Linked DNA regions of Homo sapiens: all the other regions are reported to be linked to region 3. The links are microRNA targets in miRTarBase. Many come from high-throughput screens and were not tested one by one. Region 3 holds a microRNA gene; each other region holds the end of a gene's coding sequence. Distances are from middle to middle.

Evidence for each region. Region 3 holds the annotated microRNA hsa-miR-4526 (GCUGACAGCAGGGCUGGCCGCU, at 1,563-1,584, shown strand). A microRNA usually pairs through its seed, bases 2 to 8, with sites in the 3' UTR of a target mRNA and lowers its output. Matches are read on the target gene's strand: a 7mer-m8 pairs with bases 2 to 8, a 7mer-A1 pairs with bases 2 to 7 and ends in A, and an 8mer does both.
Region 1: the mRNA of PIGQ is a reported target of hsa-miR-4526. The part of its 3' UTR that is shown has no 7-base or 8-base seed match.
Region 2: miRTarBase lists INTS2 as a target of hsa-miR-4526. Seed matches in the 3' UTR shown: 7mer-m8 at 1,466-1,472.
Region 4: miRTarBase lists CCNT1 as a target of hsa-miR-4526. The part of its 3' UTR that is shown has no 7-base or 8-base seed match.
Region 5: miRTarBase lists TMEM200C as a target of hsa-miR-4526. Seed matches in the 3' UTR shown: 7mer-A1 at 3,297-3,303.

What each region holds. Positions count from the first base shown.
Region 1 is chr16:582,186-586,286 of GRCh38, reverse strand. It overlaps PIGQ (phosphatidylinositol glycan anchor biosynthesis class Q), which reads right to left. Exons shown (of 11, transcript NM_004204.5): 10 at 3,978-4,039; 11 at 2,178-3,404. The coding sequence ends at 3,252. Among named protein-coding and RNA genes, the nearest start is that of RAB40C, 5.8 kb to the left of the region's middle. RefSeq lists enhancers at 1,618-2,373, 2,374-3,130.
Region 2 is chr17:61,863,881-61,867,999 of GRCh38, reverse strand. It overlaps INTS2 (integrator complex subunit 2), which reads left to right. Exons shown (of 25, transcript NM_001351695.2): 24 at 1-167; 25 at 274-2,633. The coding sequence ends at 443. Among named protein-coding and RNA genes, the nearest start is that of BRIP1, 2.4 kb to the right of the region's middle.
Region 3 is chr18:13,609,605-13,613,723 of GRCh38, forward strand. It overlaps MIR4526 (microRNA 4526), which reads left to right and starts at 1,510; the gene lies at 1,510-1,596. All of the region lies in intron 4 of LDLRAD4 (low density lipoprotein receptor class A domain containing 4), which reads left to right. RefSeq lists enhancers at 3,020-3,249, 3,670-4,119.
Region 4 is chr12:48,689,261-48,693,379 of GRCh38, reverse strand. CCNT1 (cyclin T1) reads left to right here. Exons shown (of 9, transcript NM_001240.4): 9 at 1-4,119. The coding sequence ends at 347. Among named protein-coding and RNA genes, the nearest start is that of KANSL2, 9.1 kb to the right of the region's middle.
Region 5 is chr18:5,886,582-5,890,700 of GRCh38, reverse strand. It overlaps TMEM200C (transmembrane protein 200C), which reads left to right. Exons shown (of 2, transcript NM_001395400.1): 2 at 1-4,119. The coding sequence ends at 503. MIR3976HG (MIR3976 host gene) reads right to left here. Exons shown (of 10, transcript NR_172496.1): 8 at 2,979-3,180; 9 at 1,528-1,621. Among named protein-coding and RNA genes, the nearest start is that of TMEM200C, 6.9 kb to the left of the region's middle. RefSeq lists a silencer at 1-138.

The DNA.
Region 1 (4,101 bases), not on the chromosome of region 3:
AAAATGGGCAGCTGACTCAAATGGTGCAGAAAAACATAAAGAATGTGCTGGCTGGGCCCGGTGGCTCACACTTGTAATCCCACCACTTTGGGAGGCCGACGCAGGCACATGGCTTGAGCCCAAGAGTTTGAGACCAGCCTGAGTAACACGGTGAAACCCCATCTCTACTAAAAGTACAAAAATGAGCCAGGCGTGGTGGTGGGTGCCTGTAATCCCAGATAGTCAGGAGGCTGAGGTGGGAGAATCACCTGAGCCCAGGAAGGTTAAGGCTGCACTCCAGCCTGGAAAATAGAGACCCGCTCTCAAAAAAAAAAAAAAAGAAAAAATGTGAAAACATACACATGGCATGTGGTCGTGGGGGGATGTAGGTGAAGGGTGCTGGAAGCATCTGTGTTATTCTCACAGCATTTCTGTAAGTCTGAATCTGTGAAGTACTGGTGAGACCCTTCTCTGTGGGCGGCCCCAACTCTGAAAGGGAAGGTGTCTGCTTCTGAGGGTGCCCTGAGGGTCCATAAATGGTCCTGGGCAGGCCTTGGAAAAGCTCCAGCCCATTGCCCTGTCTGGGTCGGCAAGGCAGGGGGGACCAGAGCTCTGGTGGAGGGATGAGGGGCACCCCACAGGTGTAGGCTGTCTCCAGGCAGGGGCTGTGCAGCAAGGACAGACGGAGCCTGCAGGTGCAGGCGGCACCTCTTGGTGGCTGCGAGTGGCTGGGGTGACGGTGTTCCATTGGCCAGCTCTGGCGCCAAACCTAGCTGGCCCTCGGGATAGGCAGTCAGCCCAGTGCCCAGCAGAGGGGGTGACCGCTGCCAGGCACGACCCATGACATGGCCATCACAGAGCAGTGGACTGAGCTGTGTCAAGACCTTGACCTGGTGGAAGCCCCAGGAGGCGTGGCAGCCCAGTGAGCAGCTGGGGGGAGTGGGAGGTACAGGTTGGGGGTGTTGGTGGACCCGGTGGGCAGCTGGGGGGAGCGGGAGGCACAGGTTGGGGGTGTTGGTGGACCCGGTGGGCAGCTGGGGGGAGCGGGAGGCACAGGTTGGGGGTGTTGGTGGACCCGGTGGGCAGCTGGGGGGAGCGGGAGGCACAGGTTGGGGGTGTTGGTGGACCCGGTGGGCAGCTGGGGGGAGCGGGAGGCACAGGTTGGGGGTGTTGGTGGACCCGGTGGGCAGCTGGGGGGAGCGGGAGGCACAGGTTGGGGGTGTTGGTGGACCCGGTGGGCAGCTGGGGGGAGCGGGAGGCACAGGTTGGGGGTGTTGGTGGACCCGGTGGGCAGCTGGGGGGAGCGGGAGGCACAGGTTGGGGGTGTTGGTGGACCCGGTGGGCAGCTGGGGGGAGCGGGAGGTACAGGTTGGGGGTGTTGGTGGACCCGGTGGGCAGCTGGGGGGAGCGGGAGGTACAGGTTGGGGGTGTTGGTGGACTTGGTGGGCAGCTGGAGGGGGAGTTGGGGGTACAGGTGGAAAGGGTGGGGGGCGAGGTGGGCAGCTTTGGGGGACAGGGGACACAGGTGGGAGGGGTGGCAGGCCAGGTGGGCAGCTGGTAGGAGCAGGGTAGGCCAGGTAGGCAACTGGAGGGTGAGTGGGGGAGAGTACAGATGGGAGGGGTGGTGGGCCAGGTGGGCAGCTGGGGGGAGGCAGGGGACACAGGTAGGGGGTTGGTGGGCCCTGAGTGCCTCTGGTTGCCTGGAAGTCCAGGTTGGATGGAGGCCTGTACACTTCGGGCTGGGAACGGGCTGTGGGGCCCGCCAGCTGGGCCCCCAGCACTGCAGGCGACAGAGACCATTCTTAGCAGCTGTGGCAGTCGCAGGCTGTACTGGGCCAGGACCCACGAGGGGCCCACCCCACATGGAGTCCACAGATTCAGAGCAGGAGCTGCTCGCCCCACCCCTGGAGGCCTACACCCCTGCACCATCTATGTCGAGGCAAGGCCACGACCCCAGGGTGGGCGGCCCCCAGGGTGGGCGGCCCGGGTTCACCTGCCTACACCAAAGTCCTCAAGGGCCCAGGGCCTGTGAGCCCGTCCCATCAGCCGTCGTCAGGGCCTCCAGCAGGAGGCCGGTGTAGACTCTGCAGGGCAGACCCACGTGAGGCAGCCCAAGTCCCTCGAGTAGCGTCCACACACCCCCCCCCCAGAGCTTCCCTGGACCCGCGCTGCACATGGACCCGGGACCGAGCCTGCGCTCCAGACACGGGGCAGGTTTTATTGTCACAGCAGCTGACGGCTTCCCCGGTGCTGGGTTGCCAGGGAGTCCCAGGCAGTCCTGGTGCTGCTGAGATGGGCGCTGCCTCCTCCCACCCACAGCGCGTCATCCCCTCACCAGCCGGCACCTGCAGGCTCCCCTCCTGAAGCGGACTCGGGCTCACAGGGAACACCCGCACCCAGACCGTGCCGTCTGGCAGGCACTTTCGGCCTCAGTGCCACGGCCCCCTCCCCAGGCCACTCACACTCCTGGGGGGCCACAGAGGTGTCTGCACAGCAGGGCTTCCTCCTTCCCTGGGAGGCCCATGAAGGGAGACAGATTTGGCCGCAGGACCTGCTGCTACGGGGCACCGTGGACGAATAGGTACGGCTGGGTCAGTGGGCGGGCCCTTGACACTGAGGCTGCTCCCGCCCCCACAGCAGCCTGGCGATGCTCACAGCCTGCTGATGGTTTCTTCACAAAGCGACCTCTCCAGGGAACATCCGCAAATAAACCCCGTGTGGTTCAGGGAGTGAGGGCCCGGGCCCGCTGGGGACGGGGGTCAGCGACTGCTTCAATCCCCCAGATGCAGGGTGCTGTTCGGCTGAGGGAGCTAGAGGGTGCCTGGGACTGGGGGGTTCATCCTGGCAAGGTCCCTCCACCCCCACAGCCAGGGCAGAGCCACTGGGGAGCCCCCAGGGAGACCAGCCCTCCACCTGGGGCTGCTGTGGTGGACGGACCCTCTGGACCTGGGTACACAGGGTGGGCATGGGGCAGTGCTCTGGACACCTGGGGTTGCTGTGCTCGCCACCATGGTGACCGCAGCAGGTGGGAAGCGGGTCCCAAGGCAGGCAGTGCCAGTGATGGAGTGCGGCCAGCCTGGCTGGCCACCCCCACATCTGCTCACTCCCAATGACCTCCAAGCCCAAGGTGTGATAGCAGGGCCTGCCGTGTTCAGGAGCACACAGCAGCGTCCACAAAGCACAGGACATGCGCCAGCTGAGCTGGTGCCACCCTGGCAGAGCAGATGGCTGGCTGTGGCCGTGTGGTGGTGCCAGGCGAGCCAGCAGTTCCCTCAGTCCTGCTTGTCCCCTCTCTGCCTCCAGGGGTAGATGAGCTCCCCAAGGAACAGCTTGCGGCACAGGGCGCCCCAGGAGTGCTTGGGGTGGCAGCCACAGCTGGGGAGGCGGTAGGTGTGCACCACGCGGCTGTAGGGCAGTGGGTTTATCTGGAAGGACAAGGGCAGCGGTCAGTGGGGTGGTCTGAGCTCCAACCCCGTCTGCAGAGAGAGGGTGGGGGCGGGCAGTTGTGAGGCAGGGCCAGTGCTGTCTCAGACATTCCCTTGCCTGTGGGAGAAGCCAGTCCCAGTTCCCAAGGAGGCAAGTGAGCCTGCAGCCAGAAGGGAGCGCTGGGGGGAGGCAGAAGCTGCATCTCCCCTCGGGGCTGCCCAACTCTGAGGGGCCGTGCCACAGGGACGCACACCCCACCCCAGGACTCACTCAGTCGGTTCTGTTCCACCCAGAACTTGAGCCCTGTGGGGCCCAGGGCAGCCCCAGCCAGCCAAGGGCGCCTCCGACACAGGGCAGAATGGGCCCCATCCACAGGACCACACCAGTGTCCTCAGGCCCTGGGGGTAAGGGGGAGGGGGTCCCGCGTGGGCCTTCCCCCTCAGCTCCACTGGGCCCTCCCTGTACCTCATCGCAGGCTGGCGTGGTGCCACCCAGACACTACACCCAGCTGACCCCACCGTCCCAGAACAGGGGCAGCAGCGTAGGGGCGTCCTGGCCACAAGGGGCCTCACCTGCATCAGGAGGCGGAGGGGCCTGCCGGCCTCGTGCCGGAGGACACGGAACTTCACGCCAGCTGCAAGGATAGCAAGCGGCTGACGAGGGGACGCGTGGGGGCTGGCCCCACACATGAGCAGA
Region 2 (4,119 bases), not on the chromosome of region 3:
GGCTAAGCGGTATGCTTTTTTTATGCCAACTCTGCCAAGTTTGGTCTCTTTTTGTCGAGCATTTCCTCCATTGTATGAGGATATTATGTCTTTGCTGATCCAAATAGGGCAAGTTTGTGCCTCTGATGTTGCCACTCAGACAAGAGACATTGATCCAATTATTACACGTAAGTGGTAACTTATTTTCAAGGGTTATCTTAATATCTCAAACAAAAAGGCCAAATTCCTTTCCAAATTTCTTGGCCTTAATGTTTTTTTTCCCTTATGTTGTAGGTCTTCAACAAATAAAGGAGAAACCAAGTGGATGGTCTCAAATCTGTAAAGATTCATCTTATAAAAATGGATCCAGGGACACTGGAAGCATGGATCCTGATGTACAGCTCTGTCACTGTATTGAAAGAACAGTAATTGAAATAATAAATATGAGTGTTAGTGGAATTTAAAACAAAATTTAAAACAACAAAAAGTTGTTTGCTGCATATACCCAACATGAATCTGCATATTAGTAACAACTCTAAACTGAATGGGAACAGTAAAGTATTGTCTTGGAATCACTAAAACAATTCAATTCAACATGAGTATAGTTTAGAACTTTATGAGAATTATGCTTGCTTGTTTCTGATTGGCACATCTTTGGATCTACTTTGCTGATATGTTTCTATTGTAGCAGCTGAGCTTTTTTTTTTTCCACTGGGAACACATGTAAGAAACTCATTATTGGAAAGGGAATTTGGCCTTGTATTTAGCTTTTGAAGTGAAGACTGCCATGCCTTTAATTTCTTATAAAAATGAGTCTGTGGGTAGCCCTAGTGTTTATTTTAACTGTGAGCTTGTAACAGAATGTGACAAAGATGCAAAGATGGGAGAGGAAAAAAGGGTAAAGGGAAAGGAGAATTAAGGAAATAATAGGAGTTAAAAACACAAGTAGAAATCTCAAAGATTTGCAGTGCAAGTAATAGTAATGCAAGTTGGAATTCTAGTTCTCAAGAAAGAGTATTGAGAAGACTTTTAAAAAGGCAAGTAGCTTTTGTAAATGATTTCTGTGGAAATACAGATGAGGATTTAAAGATTTCACATATTTGCTTCAATTTTTATTAATATATGAAGCCATATGTTTAAAGAGATACTTGAATAATTTGGAATTTTAAGATACTGGTGTAAAAGTGTTTACAGAAACATCTTTGTTCAAAGAAGAACCTGAGAGATCTCATTTAGTTTTATGTTTTAAATTTATTTTTATAATGCTTTATTAACTTACCTAATGCTCAGAGGGGGGAAATATGTATCAAATTAAATGAAGGTAGAGCAATAAAACCCACTGGATTAAAGAGCTCTTGGTTTGTCATCAGGATTATAATTCATATCTTACTTTGAGAAGATCTTTGAGTAAGAAAATGCAGTGTTTGAACCTGAGGAAAAGTTAAAGTGTAGAAAATATTGTCTTGCCGAAGGATTTTGCAGTCCTCTGTCAGTAACTTCCATTGATTAGGCAGACATATTCAGGTAAACCCTAATCATTAAAAAAAAATTATCAATGTAGAAAGTAATTCCCTTTTTTCTCTCTGAGATATACCTCAATCACACACTTCCCCACCCCCACTTGAAACAGACCTCTTCACTTGTGTTTTTTTTTTTTTTTTCCTGAGGTGGAGTCTTCCCCTGTTGCCCAGGCTGGAGTGCAGTGGGATGATCTTGGCTCACTGCAACTTCTGCCACCTGGGTTCAAGGGATTCTCGTGCCTCAACCTCCTGAGTAGCTGGGACTGCAGGCACGCGCCACCTGTATTTTTGTATTTTTAGTAAAGACGGGGGTTTGCCATGTTGCCCAGACTGGTTTTGAACTCCTGGCCTCAGGTGATCTGCCCACCTTGGCCTCCCAAAGTGCTGGGATTACAGGTGTGAGCCACCGCACCTGGCCAGACCGCTTCACTTGTAAAAGAAATTAGGCTAATAAGAAGGTGTAGTTTTTGAGAAATGAAATTTAACTTTAGCCTTTTCACTAGTAAATAGTCACATCTCATTTTCTTCCTTTGTAAAATGGGGTTACTACTGGCCCTACCTCATATTCTATGAGAATGAGTTTGTAGCTGTTTCAAATCATGAAGTGCATAGTATCACATGTGATAGAATATTTATAACTTTTTATTAGATGCTTAATGTTCAATTAAGTAATTTTGATGTGAAAAATAAAAGTAATAAAAGTATCTTAAAAATAGCATAAGAATTTTCATATTTTTAAACAAGGCAGTTTTGTAGTCCCTTAAGATTAAATACAACTGCTCCTTTTTTTTTTAAACTGAGGCCTTGCGATATTTTGTGTGAATAGATATGCCCTAGGAGTTCAGAAAAAGTTAAAAGTATGTTTTCTAATTAAATGCAGTGCACATTCCTGGATCAATATTCAAAGACTGGTCATAACCTGCTGTGTTAAAATAATCACATATGCTCTTTTTCATCAGATTTGTTGATGATGTAAATAAAATGTGTAAATATATTAGTAAATGTTAATATTCATGTATTTTAAGTTAAGGTTATAAAATTTGTCACAATGTGTTTTTTTATTCAAGTGAAAACAGATGTGTGCAGCTATTTTGAATATTGGTTTATAAACATTCATATTCTTTATCAAACGAACCTGTAGTTTTTGTGTTTCATTCCACTAGAGTTAACCTGAAGGGAACGGTTCAAGGGACTGTATTCGAGGTCTGTATGGCTCCAGGGCCTACGTGTATCCCTTTCTGTTATGCCACATACATTAAATGGCAATGCAAGGTGAGAGCCAGTTGAAACTCTTAGTAATTTAGGAGAGGAAAATGAGAGTAGTTATACTAGAGCAGTTACTCAAAAGAGTTGATTTTTTTTTTTTTTGAGACGGAGTCTCGCTCTGTCTCCCAGGCTGGAGTGCAGTGGCGCCATCTCGGCTCACTGCAAGCTCCGCCTCCTGGGTTCACGCCATTCTCCTGCCTCAGTCTCCCGAGTAGCTGGGACTACAGGCGCCCGCCACCACGCCCGGCTAATTTTTTGTATTTTTAGTAGAGACGGGGTTTCACCGTGTTAGCCAGGATGGTCTTGGTCTCCTGACCTGGTGATCCGCCTGCCTCGGCCTCCCAAAGTGCTGGGATTACAGGCGTGAGCCACTGCGCCCGGCCAAGAGTTGATGTTTTAAAAATTATAAAAGAGAAATGACAATTTGAAGGTATTTTTAAGGATTTATTTTTAAACATTATCCTTCCTTTCATTGTCTTAACAGTAAATTACTTCATCTTTGCTCATTCATATGTATTTTCACATTACTGAATCCCTAACACCCAGTTTGGGGTTTGCTTTGCCTTTTTTCACTTAACCTTATATGGGATTTTTTCTTGCAAGTTTAATTTTTATAAGTTTATTGGCTTCATAATGTATTGAATTCATCTGTCATAACCACCTCCATATTACTAGACTGGGAAGTTCATAATTTTTTTCAGTATTACCAATAGATATTATTGTCAATTGCGGTATCACATTTTCTTTCGTTTAGATTACGTCTTTAGGATAAATATCTGGAGCTCAGATTACTAGGTCAAAGGGTAGAGTTTATTTTTATGACTACAAGTTTTGTCATTTTTGGTAAGATATATCACAATTGACAATGAGGCAAACAAATCAACTAGCCCCCTCCTGCTCTTTCTTCCCAGCAAACTCCTTCCCCAAACTAGTTACTTGAATTTGAGAAACAGTATGAGGTTTTGCCTTTTGGAGACATTATTATTTGAGCCAAGTTTAGGTTATACAGATTTTTTAAAAAAATAACATGATTTGGCAAGATCATGATGAACCTCCTTTTCTTTGAGTAAATTAAAGTACTACTGGCAAATAATAAACTGGTCTTAGGAGGGATGGAAGGCGGATAAGCCTTAATGGAAGTAGAAGTGATCTGATACTGGAGACCCTGAGAGCTTGTCTCTGGCTTATTTTAGCATCCGGGAAAGCCTTGAATATTATGAAAGATAGATTGTAGCCCGATGTCACAGAGCCTTCTTACTTAAGTTTGGCTCAGCAGTCTGGCAATTCCCGCCTGAGTCTTCGCTATCCTGGCTACTGCAAAGCTGGGTAATTTAAATTGAGTGGCACTGATAAA
Region 3 (4,119 bases):
AAAGTTTTGAAAGTGGTTTTTAAACAGGTTGAACTGTGAGAACATTAAACTGAGTGGGCAAGGAGCTTAATTAAGATCGGCTCCATGGCCGGGCGTGGTGGCTCACACCTGTAATCCCAGAACTCTGAGAAGCCGAAGCTGGTGGGTCGCTTGAAGTCAGGAGTTCCAGGACAGCCTGGCCAACATGGTGAAACCCCATCTCTACTAAAAATACAAAAATTACAAAAATTAGCCCGGCATGTTGGCGCACGCCTGTAATCCCAGCTACTCGGGAAGCTGAGGTGGGAGAATCACTTGAACCGGGGAGACAGAGGTTGCAGTAATCAGAAATTTCGCCACTGCACTCTAGCCTGGGCGACACAGCAAGACTGCATCCAAAAAAAGAAAAAAGAAAAGAAAAAGATTGGCTCCCATGGCCAAGATGCCCAGTGACAGGGAAGCTAGCCAAACACAGTAAGTGTGTTGAGACACTGGGGAATAGCTGATGGCCGTTAAATGAAAGAAAAAAATGTTGATTTTCTTTTTTTATATATGAAATATTCATTTTACACCATGTTAAATCCCAGAGCGGGCTATTTATAACCATTTCAAAATGCAAATATGTTCATTAGCAAAGGAGAGAAGAACTTTTCCAGTTCCATGAAGTTCACCAAAGCCCTAATTTTTTTTTTTTTTTTTTTTTTTTTTTTTTTTTTTTTTTTGAGACGGAGTCTCACTCTGTCGCCCAGGCTGGAGTGAAGTGGCCCTATCTTGGCTCATGGCAACTTCTACCTCCCAGTTGCAAGCAATTCTCCTGCCTCAGCCTCCTGAGTAGCTGGGATCACAGGCGTGTGCCACCACACCTGGCTAATTTTTGTATTTTTAGTAGAGACGGGTTTCGCCATGTTGACCAGGCTGGTCTTGAACTCCTGACCTCAGGTGATCCGCCCACCTCGGCCTCCGAAAGTGCTAGGATTACAGGCTTGAGCCACCGTGCCTGCCCCACAAAGCCCTAATTTTAAGAAACAGACAGGTACAGTGGCCTACAGCGCTCCTCACTAAGGCCCTGGCTTGAGGGCAAGCCTATCATGTGACTGAGCCTGACCAGGAAGTGCTGGCCCAGGTGGCAAGGAGCCTCGGGGCTCCAGGGACAAGGGGCGCTGGTAGCCAGGGAGGGGCGGCTTGAAGTGGCTGCAGCTTCTAATTCTTTCTGAAGCTGCCTCTTTCTGAGGGTGACTCCCTCTTCATTCACCCAGCAGGGTGACTCTGAGAAGTCAGGGAAAGTCTGGCACAGGGAGGGGAGTTCCATTTTTAATTCGGAAATTGCTCAGGAAGAATCATACCATCCGGATTTCCCTCGCGGCTGTATATTAATAAATGGTCACTTTCCTTGCTGAAATTCTCTGGTTTCCTTTTATCCACGTGAAGCTTCTGGAAACTCTTCTGGGTGGTTCTTCTGTTGCTTTTCTGCCCCTGCCCCCAAAAATGAGAACATGAGAAAGTGATGTCTTCTAGCCACCTGGAGGACCCTGCGGTGACATCAGGGCCCAGTCCCTGCTGTCATGCCCCAGGTGACGTGCTGGGCTGACAGCAGGGCTGGCCGCTAACGTCACTGTCCTGGCTTCTAACGCTGGTAGTAACCAACAGAGTTTAGTTTTGCTTTGACAACTCCTCCTACAGCCAAAACTATTGTTATGGCCCACATGTCATTCCTATTTACCCTAAATAAGGAAAAACAAAGGCTATTCTGGGCTCCCGGCAGTGCTTGTGGTGGGGGTTATTTGCAGCGTTACCATGGCAGGCTGCCCTTTCCACCACGGCCACCCCGTGATTTTCTCTGAAAACTGCGACAGACTCGCAGCCTGCCCTGAATTTTCTTCACACAGCCTGGGGGCATCCGAATGCACGGGAGATGTTTTACACTCAGATGAAACAAACTGTTTAGACCTCGGGGAAAAGAGACTGTGCTTGAACAAAATGAACCAGGAGAAAGCGCCCTCCTGAGACATGTCTCTGCTTTCATGTTTGAATTGCCTGGGATTCTGTTCTCTAATTTCTGATCCTTATAAACTAAAACTGCCTAGGAACATTGAGCATCCTGACTTTGAAGGAGTCTCTGTGGTGTTTTTGTGCTACCATACATGGGGAATAATGATGTGAGGCAGAGGGAGAGGGAATGAATGGGAGAGCCAAGAGGGAAGAGCGAGCCGGGGGGAAAGGAGCGCGCAGTGTTTCCTGCTGCGGTTAGGACCTCACGCCTTGCCAGTACAGAGCTCGGTGGCAAGAGCCGCTGGGAGCTGCTCCCATCAGTTAGAGGATGTGGAGAGGGAGCACCAGAAGAGGACAGCCCGCAGCCTGGCTCGCAGCCTGAGGGACGCTGTGGGTGCTCCCAGCCGGGCGAGCACGCTCTGGGAGCGGATCTGCAGGGGAGAAGCACGCGAGCCTAACGTGAGCGTCCCGCCTGTCGCGTGTCCTGCCTTGGTAAGCGCCCTCTCCGGTCCTTCCACACTGAAAGCTTCCAGCAGAGATCAAGGGAAGGAGTATTGTGTGAGACTTGCAGATTTCCTCCTTTCTGTCTGGACTGGTTTGATATTTGCCTGTTGAAAAGATTACTGAACGCAGTGTGACAAGATGAGCCGTCTAGCTGCGTTCTGCTTGCCTGTGTGTGTGACACGTCCAGGTGTGAGGCCAAACCTGAGAAGTGCAGACTGCTCACTGATAGACGTTGCTGTAAACAGTAGTGCCCTGGGTGTACAGCTGGTCTCAGGATCGGAGACCCCGGACTTATTCTCTGCTCGGTGACACGGCCGGCTTCCTGCCGCAGAGCTCCTGGTTTCTGTTGATGGCAGTTGATAATTGGTAGCCACAGTCTGCGGTCGGAGCCACAGCATTTGAGTCTAGCACCTGGGGTGGGCCCTGCTGATACAGTAGAGAGAGAGTGAACGAGGCAGACAGAAACACACCCCCCCCCCCTCCACGCTCACACACTCTCCCACACCCCATGCCAGCTATAACTGCAGCTCTGAGCTGCCTGGAGAGGAGATTGCCGGAAGCTGAAGGGATGCTTTGAACGTGGGGGGGCTGCGTCACAGTTGGACTCCCACTTGCAGAGGACCTGATTATGTCCAGTGACCACCTGAACAACAGCACACTGAAGGAGGCTCAGTTCAAAGACCTGTTCTTAAAAAAAGGTACATTTCCCAAGAACTGCTATGGATGATGCATGCTCTTTCGGGTTTGCTGTGGTTCTTCTTGGAGTTTGGTCTGAGGACAGAGCTGAGAAGAGGAGAAGCTCTTTCTCAAGAAGTTTCTTTCTACCTAAGAGGGGTCTGTCAACTCAGAACATTTCCGGGTGGGACTCCCTTTAGGAAGATGCATGTCAGGCTTTTTCATCTTCTTTCAAGCCTGGAATTAGTTTGTTCCTGTTGGAGGTGTTATGCATGAGTACACAGTTTGTTGCTTTGGAGTTTTGTTTTTTTCAAATGTCTGTATATAAGGCTGAGACCTCCCCTGGAAATTCTGCTACTTGTTAATAATTCCTTTTTCTTCACCCTCATGAGCTGAAAACTGCATTTTAAAGAAAAGGTATTTCTCAGGATGTGGCTGGTTCATTGAACACTTTCTTAGGTCATCCATGTAGTGACAGGAGCTATTAGGAAGGAGAACTGTGACTCTGAGAGATAGAGAGCCAAAGAAAGTGAGAGACAGACAGACTGGCTGTGGGATGAGAGCCTCAGAAGCCACCACTCTCCCCTGTGGAAATGAAGGTTCCATTCCATGTGCAGCTGTGTTTTTTTTCTGATGCACTTTCCTAAATTAATAATGTGGAGGTGGAGGTGAGGGTGGATTTTAAATGAATCCTATAGGGGGAATTATGGCTTATGTATGTATTTTTTTCCATTTATAGCATGGCAGAGGGATAGACTTTTAAAAGGTTTATAATTGCTCTTACTCCTCTGCTGATTTTTTAGAAAATCCTGTCAGTCATCTTTGATCAGAACATATTTAGGTAAATTTCTTTCTGAAGAGATCATGAAACTCTAGATTCTAAAATGCGTGGTGAGAAGTAATTGTAGTGGATGAAGGCTTGGGCTTTCATAAAGTGAGGAGATGCCACTCCAGCTGGACGGGCTCGTGGAG
Region 4 (4,119 bases), not on the chromosome of region 3:
AGATGCCTGGGCATAGCTCAGACACAAGTGGCCTTTCCTTTTCACAGCCCAGCTGTAAAACTCGTGTCCCTCATTCGAAACTGGATAAAGGGCCCACTGGGGCCAATGGTCACAACACGACCCAGACAATAGACTATCAAGACACTGTGAATATGCTTCACTCCCTGCTCAGTGCCCAGGGTGTTCAGCCCACTCAGCCCACTGCATTTGAATTTGTTCGTCCTTATAGTGACTATCTGAATCCTCGGTCTGGTGGAATCTCCTCGAGATCTGGCAATACAGACAAACCCCGGCCACCACCTCTGCCATCAGAACCTCCTCCACCACTTCCACCCCTTCCTAAGTAAAAAAAGAAAAAGAAGAGGAGAAAAAAACTTCTTTAAAAAAACACATAATTTTTCTTTTTTTTTTTTGGACTAAGAAAATTACTTATGAAATATGTCATCCTTGGACTAGGGAATAAATTGATATTGAGACATAGTTAGGAGGGTGGTAGAAGGCCTTGGCTATATATCTGCTGTCTCATGCATTTAACTATTTTCTTACAGTTTTTACTGGTATTAGAGAGGTGTTGAAGCTGTGAAGGATTAAGGACACATTCTGAATTCTTGGCCTCTCCACCATCTAATTAGGTTGATTGGAGTTGATATCTTCCCTCTTCTTGCCAGAGCTGAAAAATGGAGGGTTTCTTGTATCAGACAATTGTGGATCCTTTCGGTGTTTAATATATCAGAAGAGAGGAAGTATTTAAACGTCAAATCTTTTAATAGACTTAATAATTTAAAGAAAGTAAGTTATCTGTTTAGTTTTTTTATATAATTGGGAAGGGGATAGGGATTTTGCTGTGTGTATATGATACATAGCAGTAACTCCTGGTGGGTGGGATTGGAGGGTGGGAATGTGTGAGGGTGGGTGGGAGGCTAGGTTTTTGGCTAGGAGTTCTGAAATAGGCTCAGGCCACTTTTTTCAGACTTTTAAGTGTGTATGTAAGTGTGGGTATGTGTGTTTTTAAGTGTGTGTGTTTAAAAATAATGTTTTATCTTCCCTCCCTGTTCCTTACCGTTTTCATTTTCCAACAGTCTACTAGAGAAAAACATGGTTGGCCTTGAGAACATAAAGGAAGAGGCATGTATTTGACATGGTATTTTTCCCTTTCTTTATGTTATAATTGAGTAGTAGCCCTCTAATTTGTAGTTTGGGCAAGTACAGCCAACACCCTGACTCTTAACCTTATTATGAGAACTTCCTTTTTACCCCTTTTTTTGTTTTTGTGCAAAACAGAGATGGGGTTGAGGAAGGAGGGTTGGCGAGCAAGGCCAGCTTCTGCCCTACAGAATTGGGTGTGTCTTTTTTTTCAAGTGAGGCTTTGGGAAAGTGTTCAAATGAGAGCAGTCTTAAGGTCTCTAAGAGATGGGGAATGTGCTATGTATATCCTGCCTGTGAAAGCCCAAACCATATGGGAGAAGCTAGAGGATACTAAAAACAATGAAATTGTGATTTGGAAGTTTAGAACATTGTTTTAAAAATTACATTATAAATGTAAGACATGCTTTTTATGTGTATATCCGAAGGGAAACAGCTACATCCTCAAGTTTTTGCAGCCTATATGACTTGAGATTGGAGCTTGTGAATTTAACAGTACTGGTGCCATGAGAATGAGCAAAGCCTAGCCAATGGATACTATTGTGTTTAGATTGTTCATCTTTGGTAGCTTTAGGTTCTTGATCGAGGTTCTTAAGATTTCTAAGTCCTTTATAAAAATAGGTCAAGAGTCCTGTTGTTATGGAGGCTTGATTATCCCAGATATTAGGAGTGAACATTTTTAATAAATCTTTCAGAAAATCTTGGCTAGAAAGAATTCTAAGTTAGTTGTCTAACCACTGAAAACTACCTAGCCAGAGATCATTTAATGAGATATTCTTTGATCTTCATTGCATTTTTTTTGCTCTGGAAAAGGTGGTTCAATTTGAGTTTGTTTTCATGATTTGATTGCAGCTTACTTCATGCCAAGGATTTTTTAGGGAGAGGTCGAATTATTTTTCATTTGGAAGTCATAGGGAGACAGGAGTTGTACTTATGCTGCTACTTGCCAGGAACAGGTTGGGAAGAAAATTGTGGCTGTTGGAATTGATGATGTACTGGCCTAATATAGAAAGGAATTTGTAGGCAGGAGTAAACGTTAACTGACGGTGGGTTAGTGCCCTGCATCTTGCATATTTGAACTGTCTAGAGTTCCTGCCATTGCTGGGTATAAAACGAGGAGCTCTCTGTTGACCTGTAAATCATTAATACTTCTTGACTTAGAGTGTCACTTCACTTTATAGATGACATTTTCCTCTTTCCCCTTGATATTTTCTATGTTGTGTTAGATAATTGGTAGATATATAGTTGTGGTTTAGTACATTTAGGGCTTCTATTTATTTAGATTTTGTTTGTTGGAGTCTGTTTCCAAAAGGGAATGTGCCATTTAGTCTGCATCTGTATCTTTGTGGACTTGATGATCACTGGTTTGATTTTGAAAAATGTCTTTTCCAGCTTTTAGTTACTCTCATCAAATGTCACATATTTTCTAATCACATGCACTCCTTTACCACAGAGGCACATAATCATTTGGCCTCATAGCAGTTATCCATGGCCGTACTGTAGTAAAGTTCCTTAGAACTTTGCCAGGAGTGAACTAGAAAAAAGTGCTTACTAGGGCCTAAGAGTTGCTTTGTGCCGTGTAGTCCGGCCTTTGCACTAGTAGATCATTGCTGACATAGGTCAGTTTAGAGACCTTTCTGTGTTAATGCCTCCTGGTACTGTCTTAAGATACGTACAGTGTCTGTTTTTAGATCTATGCATATGTCATGAAGCTCCTTGTGGGCTCTGCATGAAGCTGCTGCTTTGTTTTTGGGTTAACAGATGTGCCTGTCAACTAGCATGTGTATTGTCCAAATTCCATAAACTTAAGGTTTTTAAGGGCTGTGTGGTTTCTGAGCTCTATGTGTCTTTCCTATCCTTGTACCTTCAAAGGGTGAGAAATGAGATTTATACATCCAAAGTTAGTCTGATAAATATGGCTTTTTGTTTCTCCATGTAACCTAGACTGTCAAAAATAAGTGATGGTGATAAGTAGGCCTGGAGCCTCAGCTTCTGTAAATCTCATTCCTAAAATTTTGCTAGACTCGTGTTGGCAAAAACAAATACCTGTGGATTGTCCTTAAGGCTTTTAATCAGATACCTGTGTTGCTGTTAGCTGAACTGTAGTGAAGCATCGATCCAAATCGGTCTTCTGAAGTATCAGTTATGCTTTTGAGTTTAGAAAATACTTAGGTGTTAGTCTAGTCTTCCCATTCATGAATCAGTGTATGTCCATATCAGAGAGCCTCAACTTCTTTTTTCTTCCTTTTTAAAAATGATTTTAGTGTTTTGATTTAGTGTATACTACATAGTTCAGTATTATTGGCTTTACCAGTGTTGACAGAAAAATTTTAAATCTCCAGTTGCAAACAGCAATGGATTAGGATATGGAAATAAAATCATGGTGACATCACTGCTGAGTTATCTTAAACCTCTGCTACTTAATTCTCCATATTGAAATGCATACTCCTCCACATACATGGCTTCCAAGTAAAGGCAATTGTAGAGGGGCCCTGTCTATCCCAGTATGGTTGGATTTTAAACATATCTGTGTTTCCGTTATTTTGGGAACTGATTAATATTTACAATTTTTTTTGTTTATGAGTTATTTTGATACTAAGAAAAGAGAGAATCTAGAACATCTTGCAGTTGAAATACAAATTTTATTCTTTTGGTCTTGGGAGAATTTAAGCAGTCTATGCAACTCATCAAATGGTGAGAAATAGCCCTCCGAGGTTCCAGTAAGCTTTCAGTGACTTTGATACCTCCCCAAGTTTCTTGAGTTGCTGCTTGTTAACACCCAGCTTTTAACTGAGTGTTTGCTCCTGATGGTTTAGGAGATTTTCATGTTGTATCACACTGTCAAGTTTTATTTTGTCTTTTTATCCCTCCGTGGATGTGAGTTTGAAACAAGCACGGTACAGTAATCCTGCCTGATAGAGTAGTCTGGAATGAGAATTACTTTTTGGGTGAGAGAGTTCTCCATTTTAATGTTTC
Region 5 (4,119 bases), 7.7 Mb from region 3:
GCGGCCGCCTGCCCAGGACCGGCAGGTACGCGGCCTTGCGGCGCCGCAGCACCAGCGGGCTCCCGGACTACCGGGCGCCGCCGTCCCCCGAGCCCCCGCCCTCCCCGGGGAGTGCGGACCCGGACTCCAGCCCTCTGGCCAAGGCCGCCTCCCCCTCGCCACCCCTGCGGCTGGAGGGCTCGCCCCCCACCAGGCGGGACTCCGGGAGCTCCCAGTCGGATGACCCATCCAGCAGCAATAAGGGCTACACACCCCTGCGGGAGGCCGGCACCTCCACCGAGTCGGTCTTGGACGCAGTAGCTGGTCAAACGCGAGACTCTGCTGTGGCCGCCCCCGTTCTGGGTGCGGAGCAGAGCTCGCCGGAGGGTGCCAGCCAGGAGCCACCCACGGCCGAGCAACCTCAGCCGGTGCAGAGGCAGTTTACAAACAAGGAGAAACTCATCATGATTTCCAGGTCTCATGCCATAGGGGTAGAAGAAGAACTGGAAAGCACAGGCATTTAGAGAAAGGGGTGGGTTGGGGAGGAGGAAAGAGAAAATGGGAGAAACGCCCACTTGAATCAGTGCATTAACAGGTCCCTGTTTCTTTTGTGGACTGATCCGAGGACATCATTCAATATCCAAAGAGCTGCAGAATGTTATCCTTGAATTGCGTCCACAAGATTCCTGTAGATAACTCCAAGGATTTTTTTTTTTAAGCAAACTAGTCTTTTTATGTCCGATGGTGATTGTATGTTCAATGAAAACCAAATGTATTAAAAGGTCAGCAATCTAGTCCATTAGATAAAATCTTTTAATTTTCTTAGGATCAAAATAATATATTTTTGACAGTAACTGTGCACTTTACTCCGACTTTTTTTTTTAATCCCTCATTTCCCGACCCCTGTACTCTGCGCTGGTTTTGCCCACAGCTGCTTGCGAATGGCAGGCTTTTTTCTCCATTCCTTTGCGGAACATAGAAGAGTTTGTCTCAGTTCTCTTAGAATTGATGTTACTAACTGAAGTCAAAGCCAAAAGCATGAATAATTCAGGAACGAGCACTTTCCTTGCCCCACCCCACTGTGCTCACCCAATGCCCAAAAGCTTCTTCATTTTTAAACGGGTGTGTACGTTTTGCTACTAGGCTATGTGGTGGAGACTGGAGGGGACCAGGAACTAGATGGACTGTTACATTCCGAAATTTATATCAAGTACACCATGCTTTATTGAGTGTTATCACACCTGTATTGAAAATAGCATTAATATTTAAAATCTTTTTTAATAAAAGAAGTTTCCGAACAAACAGTTAAACATAATATTGCCTCATTTGCCTTGGAGCTAGCTCATCTGGTACCTCTGAAATATTTTGCTGTGACACTGCTACCAGGACTGTTGTGATCTTCCCCCAAAGTACTCAGCACCATTGTCGCATGTCCAGCGTATTTTTAAGCTTAAAATGTAGGGTAGTATTTAACATTTGGGAATTTCTCTTTCAAATAGAATGAAACGTTAAGTAAATAGTAATATGCCTATGATACTTCTCATTTACCTGCAAGTATTAATTTGCAGAGCACCAGGCTTAATATTCTCTTCCCATCCTCTTGGCTATCACTGATTATAAGTTAATGGTCTTGATCCATGGCCTACATAGACAAAAAGATAATGTTTTAATAATTTGGTAGATTGTTTACACTTGATGTCATTAAAAGTGAATTAGTTAATTTTCAAGACCAGGAGACAAGATGTCTTCATTTTGGTCTCCTTGGGCAAAGCGCTAGTCCTGTAGACAGAGTGCAGATTCCGAGCTGAGATTGGACCCAGCTGTTGGCATCTCCTAGCTGTGAGGCCTTGTACAAGTCACAAACTCTGAGTCTCAGTCATCTTTCTGTAAAATGAAGAGAACCAGACATATCTCATGGAGCTATGAGAGGAATAGAACAGGGTCAGGGTCAGAGGAGGGTTTATATGTGTGGAGTTTACCAGAACCCTTGGCCCACAGGATGTATTCAATAGATGGGGGTTATTGTAATTATTATTACCATTGTAATATATTGCTGAATGCATAGTGTAGAAGAATGGACCTTCCTTGAACTTGAGCTCAAGAAAGTCTAGTCTGAAATCTGGGATATCCACCTATTATCTGTATAACCTTAGACAAATCACTTAATCCCTCTGGGCCTCTGGTAGATGATATAATCTCTATGATCTTCAGCTCTAAAAGCCTTACTTAAATTCAGGCTCTTGTCCTGGATGTAATCATATCACATTTGTACCTACAACTTGGCAAAGAGTGAATATACGTCGTCAATTACCATTAGCTCAACATTCTGTAATACACTTTAAAAGGGCCTAATTTATTCTCAGATTGGATCTGCATTAAACCGGTAACTCACTTTAAGGCTGTAGATTAATATATTGGGCTCTTCTATAAAGCAAAAGTGAGTTTGCACTAAGGAGTGACATGCAAGTGTAATAAGACCTCAAGGTAGTGTTAAATTTCAACAGTCTCAATTGCTTTATCACACTTCCAAAGTAAATGTCAAACTTCCTTAGGTTTTCTTCTCCATTACCTTGGGTACTGGGTAATTTATATACTGAGATAGCGTGTTACTTCAAGGGGAAAACAGGTTCTGGTGTTCTACAATACTGTTTCCAGTCCTCGGAGAATGCACTGTAAATGTTACATTTATCAAATGCTAAGTGACATTTAGCAAATAATAAAGCTAATACCTCTTAGCTTAACTAAGGAGGGGTGGACAGAATACTGTTTATATCTCACAAACTTAGTTCCATATCAGATAATATCTAACTTAACCATTGAACAATTTAACTAGATTTTTTTTCTGAAGATAGACAAAGATGAGCTCAATTTTCCAAATCTTGGGAGGAGCCTGTGATTTCTTTAGACTTCAGAGGAAGTGTATAAGTGTAGTAATTCACAATCGTAACTTTCATAGGAGCAGAAATCTGCAATAATGCTAATTTTCACTCAGTACTTACTGTGGGTTCAGTACTATTGTAGGAGCTTGGTACACATGATCTCAGTGAATCCTCACAGCAACTCTATTGAAGTAGGATCATTCTTACCGCTGTTTTGCAGAGAAAGACACTGAGGTCAGAAAGATGGAATTGTTGTCCAGGGTTACACAGCTGGTAAATGGTGGATCCAGGATTTACACAGAGTTTGGAAGATTAGGTAGACCTGTCGGCAGATGCTGAGTTGAAATGGGCATTTCTGGAGACCATCAAAATACTTTATATATTCTTTATTTCCTGCCAGATCCCTTTCCAGACCATTCTTAGAGAAATGCAGAAAATTGTCAGAATGCACAGTCAGATAAAAAGCTGGAGTTCGTAAATCTTCAGACGGGCATGAACAAGTTTTTTTGTAAGTGACTTTTCAGGGGTTTTTGTACACAATAAATAAGAGTATTTGAAAGGGCCTTATAGATGATAGAATCCCCCCACCTTTAATTTATAAATGAGGTTTCTAAGATTTAGAAAGATGGAACAATTTATTCTGAGACAAACAGCAGTGGCAGGACTCGAATGTTAAATTAAAATAATTGCAACAATTGGTGTGATGGTATTTTTTCCCTGAATTTCTGTCATGTACCAGCTGGGTGACCATGGACAAGTTACATAGTCTCTCTGTGTCTCAATTTCCTTTTCCACACTATAGGAATAATAATGTCCCTATCTTACAGGACTGGAGTAAAGATTAAATGAACTAATATTTGTGTAAAGTGCTTATAATGGGCTTGGAACATAGAGAGTATTATACAAAGGTTTGTTCCTTTTATTTAAAATAGAATCAACTGCTAAACAATTACTTCATATGACCTTCCTTTTTATTAATAGAATAATTTTAGGCTTAAAAATCTAAAGTATAAGGCAACATAGCATAGTGGCTCAAAGTGTGACTTAGGGGGTTATATAACATTATAACTGGGTCTTCACATCTAGTAAATGGAGATAATAAATGGAATTTGGCACATAGAATTAATTATTTAAATGAGGACTAAATAAACTAATATAATTAAAGGACTTAGAACAACTCCTGGCACATAAAAATATTCAGTAAATGTTAACTACTATTATTAAGGCAAAATACAGAAAAGCAATTAGTAGGCTAAATTTA